Regions from separate parts of the Homo sapiens genome. Here regions 2, 3 and 4 are each linked to region 1. Evidence: fine-mapped expression QTL. A gene starts in region 1. Each other region holds a variant in brackets. All regions are shown on one strand. Distances are from middle to middle.

What was found.
Region 2: its variant is fine-mapped to the expression of CASTOR2 in whole blood (INTERVAL, PIP 0.96).
Region 3: its variant is fine-mapped to the expression of CASTOR2 in lung (TOPMed, PIP above 0.99). The same link has a PIP of 0.9 or more in caudate, cerebellar hemisphere, cerebellum, esophagus mucosa, esophagus muscle and fibroblasts.
Region 4: its variant is fine-mapped to the expression of CASTOR2 in whole blood (INTERVAL, PIP above 0.99).

The regions. Positions count from the first base shown.
Region 1 is chr7:74,963,143-74,965,824 of GRCh38, reverse strand. CASTOR2 (cytosolic arginine sensor for mTORC1 subunit 2) reads right to left here and starts at 1,120. Exons shown (of 9, transcript NM_001145064.3): 1 at 727-1,120. The coding sequence starts at 839. RefSeq lists a silencer at 1,273-1,382.
Region 2 is chr7:74,684,018-74,686,699 of GRCh38, reverse strand. The region is part of intron 1 of GTF2I (general transcription factor IIi); the gene reads right to left. Among named protein-coding and RNA genes, the nearest start is that of GTF2I, 28 kb to the right of the region's middle. The variant G/C (reference allele first, on the strand shown) is at 1,287.
Region 3 is chr7:75,028,557-75,031,238 of GRCh38, reverse strand. It overlaps CASTOR2 (cytosolic arginine sensor for mTORC1 subunit 2), which reads right to left. Exons shown (of 9, transcript NM_001145064.3): 9 at 1-2,682. It also overlaps a transcript of RCC1L not described here. Among named protein-coding and RNA genes, the nearest start is that of RCC1L, 44 kb to the left of the region's middle. The variant A/G (reference allele first, on the strand shown) is at 1,600.
Region 4 is chr7:75,550,649-75,553,330 of GRCh38, reverse strand. All of the region lies in intron 22 of HIP1 (huntingtin interacting protein 1), which reads left to right. Among named protein-coding and RNA genes, the nearest start is that of SPDYE5, 60 kb to the right of the region's middle. The variant A/G (reference allele first, on the strand shown) is at 1,525.

The DNA.
Region 1 (2,682 bases):
TCAACTATTTTTCCCCCTGCAGCATCCAAGCCCAGCCTCAAGGCAGATGCATAAACATGCCTGCTCCTCCCCTTCTACGGTTGGGCAAAACACCCCCCCACCCCCTTTCCAGGACCCCAAGGAGAAAGAATCACGTCCTCTGCAGCCCCTCCCTGGCCCTCGCCCACCCCCCGTTTCCCCCCCGCAATTCCAGGCCGTCCGCAGCAAGCCTCGTAGGCACCTTGAGATAAACACCCACTAATGATTTTATGATTTTCTGCTCTGGGTAACCGCGCTCAGCGGAATCCCTCCCCCCGCCGTGGCGACGGGGCCGGCCCAACCGAGGGATGGGGGGATGGGGGCGTTTGTTTTTTCCACGGCCTCGTCCCCACACCTGTTTTTCATTCATTCATTCGTTCGTTCCTTCATCCATTCACGGATCCGTCACTGCAGCCGCCCCAGCCCCCCGGATTTCGGGGAGGGGGCTGCGATGGGGGAGGGGGTGGGAGATGGGGGGGACGACAGAGGTGGGGGGTGGCGCACCGGGGGGTGGAAGGTTGCGAGGGGTCCGGGAGCCAGGACCCTGCGGCTCCGGCTTTGTCAGACGCGAGCGAAGCGGCGGCGGGGGCGGGGCGGGGGCGCTCCCGGGGCCCGAAGTTGTTTTCCGAGGCGCGGCGGCGAGGACAGCGGCCCGGGGTGCGCCCCCTTTGTCTGTCCCCGGCCGGCGCCGCGTCCCCGCGCGCTTACCTGGTCTTGGAGGACAGGAAGGCAAGTTTGATCAGGCCGTAGGTGAACAGCGGGATACTCTCCTTGGCGACGCTGGCAACTTGCAGCCGGTGCTCCAGGATGTGGAGTTCCATCGTCCGCCCGCGCCCCGTCCGCGGCGGCTCATCCGCGGGGGGACGAGCCGCGGCCCCCGCCCCCTCCGCGCCCTGCCGGCACCGACAGCCGGCCCGGAGACCCGGGAGCTCGGCGCCGGGCGCGGGGGGCGGCGGCGGCCGGGCCGGGCCGGACAAAAGGGAGGAGGCCCGCCAAGTTGCAAGGGGGAGCCGCGGGGCGAGGGAGGCAGCGCCGGCGGAGCAGCAGCCGAGGGGCCGAGCGGCGGAGCAGCGGCGCGCGGCGCCCGGCGCGGGGAGCAGCTGGTGTTCGCTGTAACAAACAACTTGCCACTCAAACGCCGGTCCCCGCTGCGCATGCGCGGCCCGCGCGCGGCCTGCCGGGACTTGTAGTCCGCCTGGGGGGGGGCTCCCCCGGTGCTGTTGCTGCTGTTGCTGCCGCGGGGGCTGGGCGGCCGGAGCTACCGGCAGCCCGGTGCACGGGAAATGCAGGAGCGCGGGCACCCTCAGGACTAAGGGGAAGGCCGAGGGGAGGCACGGGGCGGGTGGAGCCAGCCTGAGCCTAGGCGCGCCCTCTGGCACCCAGTCAGGCTCGGTACTAGGTGCTTGGAGTGTAAAGCGAGCAAACCAGACGACTCCGGTGCTGGAGAAGGCCCGAGTCTGGGAGCGCCAAGATGTAGGGCAATCGGTCATGAGAGTGCAGAGAAGCCAAACCGAAAAGCTTGCTGGGGACCCGGAGGGAGGGGATTGACAGGTCAAAGGGGGTGACCCGGGGGAGGGGACACTCAGGCTGGGTTTTGAAGGATGAATGGGAGTTCGTAGCAAGAGAGTGAGGGCGCGCGGATGGAGGACAGAGGCCTTCCAGGCTGCAGGAACAGCGTGTCCTAGGGCACAGAAGCGTGAAAGCCCCCACGGTGCTGTGTTTGGCTTTGTTGCAGCGGAAAATGTGAGGGAGGAGAGAAAAGAGATAAGGCAGGCATAGTCACCAGGAGTCAGGTCGGGAGGGTCATGTGTGCAGAGCTAATGAGGTGGCCATTTATCCCACTGGAGAGGGGGTGATGGGGACTGCGAAGGGTGAATTCGGGGAAAATGTAAAGTGCGTCTGAGGCACTTCCAACCCCAGGGCCCACGCGCCGGGACCACAGAGGTTCCTCCTTCATGGCTGTCTGGTTTTGAAATGTTCTGGGTTAAAGTGATTGGTGCTTCCACCTTTGGCAGAGTAATCTGGGGACGCGATGGGTGAGATCTATCTGCCAGGGCAGGCTGAGAACTCTCTTTCAGGGGAAAATTGCAGTTGTGCTCCCTCACCTTCCCTCAGCCCTCCTCTGTTAGGTAGGAACATACTAGGTTTTGTCATTTCCACAAAAGGGTGAAAAGCCTGTAATCTGTGGTAGATAGATCTTAGAGCATGCATATCCCCCTCCCACTTTATTTTCTTTTACTCTTTTTCTTTTATTTATTTATTTTTTAGAGACAGGGTCTTGCTCTGTTGGCCAGGATGGAGTGCAGGGGCGCAATCATAGCTCACTACAGCCTCGAACTCCTGGGCTTAAAAGATCCTCCCACCCCAGCTTCCCCAGCAGTTGGGACTACAGTTATGCCTGGCTAATTTTTTTTTTTTTTTAACTTTCTTTTTTCCCCCCCGAGATGGAGTCTTGCTCTGTCGCCCAGGCTAGAGTGCCATGGCGCGATCTTGGCTTACTGCAACCTCCTCCCCCTTGGTTCAGCGATTCTCGTGCCTTGGCCTCCCAGCTAGCTGGGATTACAGGTGCTGGCCACCACGGCTGGCTAATATTTGTATTTTTCGCAATGTTGCCTAGGCTGGTCTTGAACTCCTGACCTCAGGTGATCCACCCACTTCGGCCTC
Region 2 (2,682 bases), 280 kb after region 1:
TGTCTGGTTTTCTTTCCCTCTCCCTCTCCCCCAAGTCTAAGTAAATTTCCATTAAAATGTGGCTTAGGCGAAATGGACAACAAAGGCATATATGTTTCTATAATTAGACATTCACTTAGCGTACACTTTCATTATTTCTGAAAATTCATAGTATTTCTTCATAATCTCACTTTTCCTTTAATTCCCCAGCGAAAGAAAACAGAGATGTGTTCTCATTTTACAAATGCAGTGATTTGTCAAGGTCATATTGCCACTATCACAGTCAGAACATGAAACTAGGGCAATTTTCTGCCTACTGCTGTTACCACTTTTTCTCATCTTTAATCGCCATAAATCTGCCATCAAGTCATCATGAGGCCGGAGAATAGGGTCTGGAGGCAGGGAACCTAAGGCCAATTCATGCTGACTTCCTAGAACTAAATCAAAAGGAAAACCCCAACTTTTCACACCTAAGTAACAAAAGGATGGGAGGCTACTCAGTTTGCAAACCACCACCCCCACTTTTTCTGTGTCCCAGATGGAAAATTCAAAGTATCTCTGATTGGTTGCTTTCTGCAACCAATCAGACGTTTGCACAGGAGTGTAACATTGTAACTTCACTTCAGCCTCTGATTGGTTGCTTCCTGCAACGAATCCCAGACTGACTGCGACCAAGTCTTTTTTCCTTTCCTTTTTCTTTAGTGCAGTGGCACGATCTCGGCTCACTGCAAGCTCCGCCTCCCGGGTTCACGCCATTCTCCCACCTCAGCCTCCAGAGTAGCTGGGACTACAGGCGCCCGCCACCACGCGCAGCTAATTTTTGTGTTTTTTAGTAGAGACGGGTTTTCACCATGTTAGCCAGGATGGTATCGATCTCCTGACCTCATGATCCGCCCGCCTCGGCCGGATTACCGGCGTGAGCCATCGCCCCCGGACTTTTTTTTTTCTTTTTTTAAGACGGAGTCTAGCTCTATCGCCGAGGCTGGAGTGCAGTGGCACGTTCTGGGTTCCCTGCAACCTCGGCCTTCCGGGTTCAAACGATTCTCCTGCTTCAGCCTCGCGAGTACCTGGGACTACAGGTGCCCGCCACCACGCCCAACTAATTTTTGTATTTTTAGTAGAGATGGAGTTTCGCCATGTTGGCCAGGCTGGTCTGGAACTTCTGACTTCAGGTTATCCACCTACCTTGGCCTCCCACCACGCCCGGCCTTTTGTTTTTGTTTTGAGACAGGGTCTTGCTTTGTTGCCCAGGCTGAAGTGCAATGGCGCTATCTCAGCTCACTGCAACCTCTGCCTCCCGGGTTCAA[G/C]CGATTCTCCTGCCTCAGCCTCCCGAGTAGCTGAGATTACAGGTAACTGCCACCACACCTGGCTAATTTTTTGTATTTTTAGTAGAGAGGGGGTTTCACCATATTGGTCAGGCTGGTCTGGAACTCGTGACCTCAAGTAATCCACCCATCTTGGCCTCCCAAAGTACTGGGATTACTGGAGCCCGGCAGGGCAAGTCGTCATTTGCATACAAGTGTAACTTTGTAACTTCACTTTAGTCTCTGATTGGTTGCTTTCCACAGATGCTTGCATAGGGTGTAACCTTTGTAACTTCAAGTCAGCCTCTAATTGGTTGCTTTTCACAACCAATCAGACTGCTTGCAGGCCACTACTGTATTTACAAAGGATGTACACCAGGTAACCAATGGGAAACCTCTAGAAAATTAAACCCCAGAAAGTTAAACCCCAGAAAGTAGTTAAACCCCAGAAAATTCTGTAAAGGGGCTCTTCAGCCCCCAGGCTCGGCCCGCCCCCTCTTTGTGGACTGTACCTTCCACTTTCAATAAATCTCGGCTTTTGGTGCTTCTTCCATTGGACACCCTCCACTGGTAACAATCACACTCAATGTGTGTAAGAAATGGGGGACAGACGCTACAGCAACAGCCCACGGGGCGCCCCTGGTGATGAAGGTCCTATGTCTTTATCAGAACTTTCAGGGCAGGCAGCGAGCCCTGCAGGATGGAAAGCACCCCAAGGGCGACCCACGGGCCTTCTCTGTGCTTCCTGCTCTCTGGAAATGGGTGCATCCGGGTCACACCGGAAGTTCGCTGTTCTTTGCCCATCCCAAGAGTTTCCTTCCTGGGACAGTCCTTAGTTGAAACTATTCGTGGAGGCTTCCCTGCACCCTTCACTTGGGGACGGCTCTCTTTTCTCCTCTTCCCAGAAAGAAACTGCCATCAGGAGGTGGCATTAATTAAACAATGAACACCAGAGGAGGCATCGGGCCAGGCAGGTGACGCCAGCTTAGGAAGCATCTGATGCACCGGTCCCCACAGGACCAAACGCCTAGAGAGCTGGTGTATGGGTTCAGCAGACAGCCATCTCGCTGCGTGCCCCTGGGGGCTGTACTCAGTTGCCTCGTCCATAAATGGAAATGCTCAATCCCTTTTATGAATACCCTCAACTTAAAATAAGAAGGGTTGGAAAAAGAAATGAACATTTATTGAATATATGTCATGCTTTATTGGCCATCTTGTATAATAAGCACAGCAACCCTGGGTGGGAGAGCAGGCAACATGGACTACACATGGACCCCAGGAAAAGCTCCTTGATGGAGGTGGTGCTCCAGAAGCCACCTGAGCCAGGCCCATGGAGTCTTTTCCTGGTTGACTTTACTTTCTGATGTCACCAGCAATGAACCACAAATCACAAGGATAT
Region 3 (2,682 bases), 65 kb before region 1:
ACTACGATGGTGGGGGCTCTGGGCAGGGCAGAGGCCCCTCAGTACACCATCCATCCACTCACCCCCATCTCAGGATAACGGAAATGATTTTGGCATAGAGAAAGAGGAGGGCTTGGGACTGTTATCAGCTCCCTACTCTTTTAGAGGGAACTCTGCTCAACTCTTCCTAGACTGTCTTCTGAATACAGGTAAACTGAGGCAGTGGAAGGGAAACCGCACTGGCCTTGGCCTGTCTTGGGACCTGAACTTGGCCTGCTGTTCACCCTGCCACCTCCAAAGTTTGGGTGAGGGGCAGGGGTCTCCAATTCTTCTGGACCTTCTTCCAGAATGAGCCCCAGTAGATGAGGGAGTGCCGGCCCCCACAAACTCTCCCTGTGAACACCATCTGCAGGATGGGATGCCTTTGAAGAGTCAGCACGGGCAGCCCCAGCCCCTTCCAATCAGAGCTGGGCTGTATCAAACCAGAGCATGGTGGAGGCAACGGCGTGTGAATTCTGAGGCTAGGGATAAAAATAACACGTTGGCTTTTACCCTGGGCCCTTGAATCTCTTGCTCTGGGGGGAAGCCGAGCGCCATATTGTGAAGACACTCAAGCAGCCCTGTGGGTTGGCCCACCTGGGGAAGGACTGAGGCCTCCTGCCTACAGCCAGGCCTCACTTAGAAGTGCATCCTCCAATCCTTAGCTAAGATTTCAGACAACAGCAACCTCATGAATGACCCTGAGCCAGAACTGCTCAAACTGTTCCTGACACCTTTGCCCCCCTCCAGAGTAGTTCTGACAAGTGGGGTGAGGCCGTCCTACCAGAGACGCCCCACCCTCTCCCCTGGAGCCAGGGTCTGCATTCGAGTCCTGCCCTCACTCACCTAATCATTTCTGCACTCAAGGCCTGACAACAAGACTGCTACTGAGAACTCAAAATACTCCAAGAGCCAGTCCCATATCTCAGGTGTGGGCTCTGCACACGTGCACGCACACACTCTAATGCATAGGAACACATCCACGCTCACAGGTACATGCACAAACGTGTGCATAAACACACCTAGGCCTGCACCCCCACTCCTAGCACACAGGCCACCCTGCACTTCCAATTTCCATAGCTCCTCTTCCCTTATAGTGACAGCCACAAGCTCTCTCGGCCACCAGGCTGTCCCTGGATGCCATGGCTCAGGCCTCAGGCTCCTGCCTCTGCTCCAGGCTGCTCCTGGCTGGCTTCCTTCCCTGGGGCCTCTTTCGTTATTTTCTTGTAGAGGCAGGGTCTTGCTATGTTGACCAGGTTGGTCTTGCTATCTTGGCCTCAAGCTATCCTCCCACCTTGGTCTCCCAAAGTGCTGGGATGACAGGCCTAAGCCACCGAGCCCGGCCTCCTTTGAATGGGCCCCCACCAGGCCTAACCCCCTCCCTCAGCATGGTACCCAAAGCCAATGTCTTTTCTCTGTTGGAGAAGCCCCCCGGCCTCACTCAGGCTCTGCCTATTACACTAACCAATGTCTCCAATGCTCCAGGCCCTGCTCGGAGCGGACTAGAAGGTTGGGGGTGCTTCTTCCCATCCCCATGCAAAGCGCTTCACTCAGGAAGTGGCGTCAAAAATCCCATTGGCC[A/G]GGCGGGGTATCTCATGCCTGTAATCCCAGCACTTTGGGAGGCCAAGGTGGGCGGATCACCTGAGGTCAGGAGTTCAAGAACAGCCTGGCCAACATAGTGAAACCCTGTCTCTACTAAAAATACAAAAATTAGCCGAGCGTGGTGGTGGGTGCCTGTAATCCCAGCTACTTGGGAGGCTGAGGCAGGAGAATCACTTGAACCTGGGAAGCAGAGGTTGCAGCGAACCGAGATCGCACCACTGCACTCCAGCCTGTCTCAAAAAAAAAAAAAAAAAAAGATCCCCCCATTGCAGGGCTGAGGTGCTCTTGCCCTAAAGCCCCCTCTCTTAGCTGGGGCTGGGAAAAGCCCTGGTTGTCACCACATCCAGATCTCTAGGCTCAGAAAGGGGCCCAGGGTGGCCTTAGGACTCCCCAGGGTATCCCTGGAAAATGTGGCCAGGAGGAGGGGGCCAGTGGGAGGTGGCCTGTGTTCACCTTTGAAGATCACCAAATAGTGCCCTGGGCTTTAACAGGGGCCTGGCCCTTCCTGTCTTCCCAGTCTTCTCTCCTGACCTCCAGGGCATCCTCTGTCACCTCAGAGGGGCAAGCCCCTCCAGACCAAGCCTCCTCCTGCTGAACAAATGTCACCCTGGCTACGCTGCTGCTTCCGGAGGCCACACTGGAAGCCTCTGATCCCCCAGCTCCTTCCTTTCCCACCAGCAGCCTGGTGCCTGGAGGTGAGAGGAGGTGAGAATGCCAGTGGTTTGGAGTGAGGCTTTGGGTCCCCGCCTCTGAATCTTGGGGAGGGGAAGCTACCAGGGTCAGGCCTGCAAGCCTCTCCAGCTCAGATGCATGCCTCGGGCTGAGGACAGTGGTGTGGGCAGTGCCCCTTGAAGGAGGGCGGTCCTGGAGATGCCCATGGAGGAAGGAGGTGCAGAGTCAGCAATGCCCAGATCTTTGCTGGGTTAGGACGACGGGCTGAGGGAGGAAGGGGTGTCTTGGGAACCAGGGGAGCCCCACGACGAGGCAGAACTTATCAGTGGCAGGGAGGGGTGGTCACTGCTCTGTTCCTCCCCATCCTTCAGCTCCCACTGGTACTCTGAG
Region 4 (2,682 bases), 590 kb before region 1:
AGAGATTGTTAAAATTGGAAAATCTGGCCGGGTGCAGTGATTTATGCGTGTAATCCCAGCACTTTGGGAGGCCGAGTCAGGAGGATCACTTGAGGCTAGACGGGATGGCTCACGCCTGTAATCCCAGCACTTTGGGAGGCTGAGGTGGGCAGATCACTTGAGGTCAAGAGCTAGAGACCAGCCTGGCCAACAGGGTGAAACCCTGTCTCTACTAAAAATACAAAAATCAACCCAGCATAGTGGTGCATGCCTATAATCCCAGGTACTGGGAGGTGGAGTCAAGAGAATTGCTTGAACCCAGGAGGTGGAGGTTGCAGTGCACCGAGATCATGCCATTGCACTCCAGCCTGGGCATAAGAGTGAGATCTATCTCGAAAAAAAAAAGGATCACTTGATCCCAGAAGTTTGAGACAGGCCTAGGCAACAAAATGAGACCCTGTCTCTTTAAAAATTAAAAAAAAAAAAATTTAAAAAGGAAAAACCTCCTGAAGGACTTTCCAGCTATATTTAATTCACTGGCTGTTAGCTGAGAATCTACTATGTTGTCATCATTACACTAGGCAATATCAAAGAAGTATAGGCAGCTCCCCTGTCTCTGAGGATTTTTATCTAGGTGGGCAGGTAATACCCAAAATGGAAATAACACTGTGTTCATTCATTTACTAAAGATGTAGTGCCGAGCATGGTGGCTCACACCTGTAATCCCTGCACTTTGGGAGGCCGAGGCAGGAGGATCACTTGAGGCCAGGAGTTCAATATCAGCCTAGGCAACATAGTGAGACCCTGTCTCTACAAAATAAAATTTTTTTTTTAATTAGACAGGTGTGATGTCACGCACCTGTAGTCCCAGCTACTCGGGAGGCTGAGGCAGGAGGATCGCTTGAGCCCAGGATTTGGAGGCCACAGTGAGCTATGATTGTGCCACTGCACTCCAGCCTAGGCAACAGAGTGAGACCCTGCCTCTGCTATAAATAAATATGTCCTGTATACCAGAAATTGGGTTAAGTATATATAGGGACAGAGAAGACATGGACTCTATGGAAAAGAAAAATAAGAAAACCATTTCTATGCAGTACAGTTTTTTTTCATTTTTTCCCCAGTGTTATGAATTGGAATATATTGGTTAAGATACAAGGATAGGGCCAGGCACGGTGGCTCACGCCTGTAATCCCAACATTTTGGGAGGCCGAGGCAGGTGGATCACCTGAGGTCAGGAGTTCTAGACCAGCCTGGCCAACATGGCAAAACCCCATCTCTACTAAAAGTACAAAAAATTAGCCAGGCGTGATGGTAGGCGCCTGTAATCCCAGCTACTTAGGAGGCTGAGGCAGGAGAATCACTTGAACCTGGGAGGCTGAGGTTGCAGTGAGCTAAGATCGTGCCTTTGCACTCCAACCTGGGCAACAGGAGCGAAACTCCACTCAAAAAATAAATAAAAAATAAAAGCCATGAGGATAGACTGTCTAATTGGAGTTCCAGAAGAAGATAATAAAAAGACCACATCCAGCCAAGGTGGGTGGATCA[A/G]TTGAGGCCAGGAATTTGAGACCAGCCTGGGCAACTTAGTGGCGCCCTGTCTCTACAACAAATTTAAAAATTGGCCGGGTGTGATGGTGAGCACTTTTGGTCCCAGCTACTCAGGAGGCTGAGGCAGGAGGATCACCTAAGCCTGGGAGCTCAAGACTGCAGTGAACCGTGTACTCTGCAGTGAATTGCAGAGTGTACTCTGCAGAGTGGTTCACCTGCAGTGAACCACTGTACTCCAGCCTGGGTGAGAGAGTAAGACCCTGTCTCTAAAAAGAAAAAATAAAAAGATCAGGGCCAGGTGTGGTGGCTCACGCCTGTAATCCCAGCACTTTGGGAGGCTGAGGTGGGTGGATCACTTGAGGCCAGGAGTTTGAGACCAGCCTGGCCAATATAGTGAAACTCCATCTCTATTAAAAATACAAAATTAGCCAGTTGTGGTGGCTAATTTTGTAATCCCAGCACATACCTGTAATCCCAGCTACTTGAGAGGCTGAGGCAGGATAATCCTTTGAGCCTGGGAGGCGGAGGCTGCAGTGAGCCGAGATTGCACCACTGCACTCCAGCCTGGGCGACAGAGTGAGACACTGCCTCAAAAAAAAAAAAAAAAAAAAAAAAAATTATCATCTACATCTTTGCCTCCCTAAATAATAGAGTTAGTTTCACATGATATAGACTACAGGTAAATGGAGTCCTACTGTATATATTCTTCTACAACTGGCTTTTTCACTCCACATTCTGTGAGATTAATCCAAGAAGATAAATTCATTTTCACTGCTCTCTCATTATCTATTGTGTGAATATCGCTTAATTCATCCGTCTGTTCTCTTGGTGATGGACACTTGGGTTATTTCCAGTTTGGGTTGTTATTAATTTGCCCCTATGATCATATATGCACACATGTCAGTTTCTCTAGAGTATATACATAGAATCAGAATTACTAGGTATTAGGATGAATCTCACACATAGAATGTTGAGTGAAAAATCAAGTCATGGAAAAATATATACAGTAGGATTCCTTTTATATAAAGACTCAAACATTCAAACTTAATAGGGATGCATCTATGTGGAATTAAAAAATAATAATAATAAGACAGGCCAGGCATAGTGGCACATGTCTGAAAATCCCAGCACTTTGGGAGGCCGAAGCGGGAGGATCAC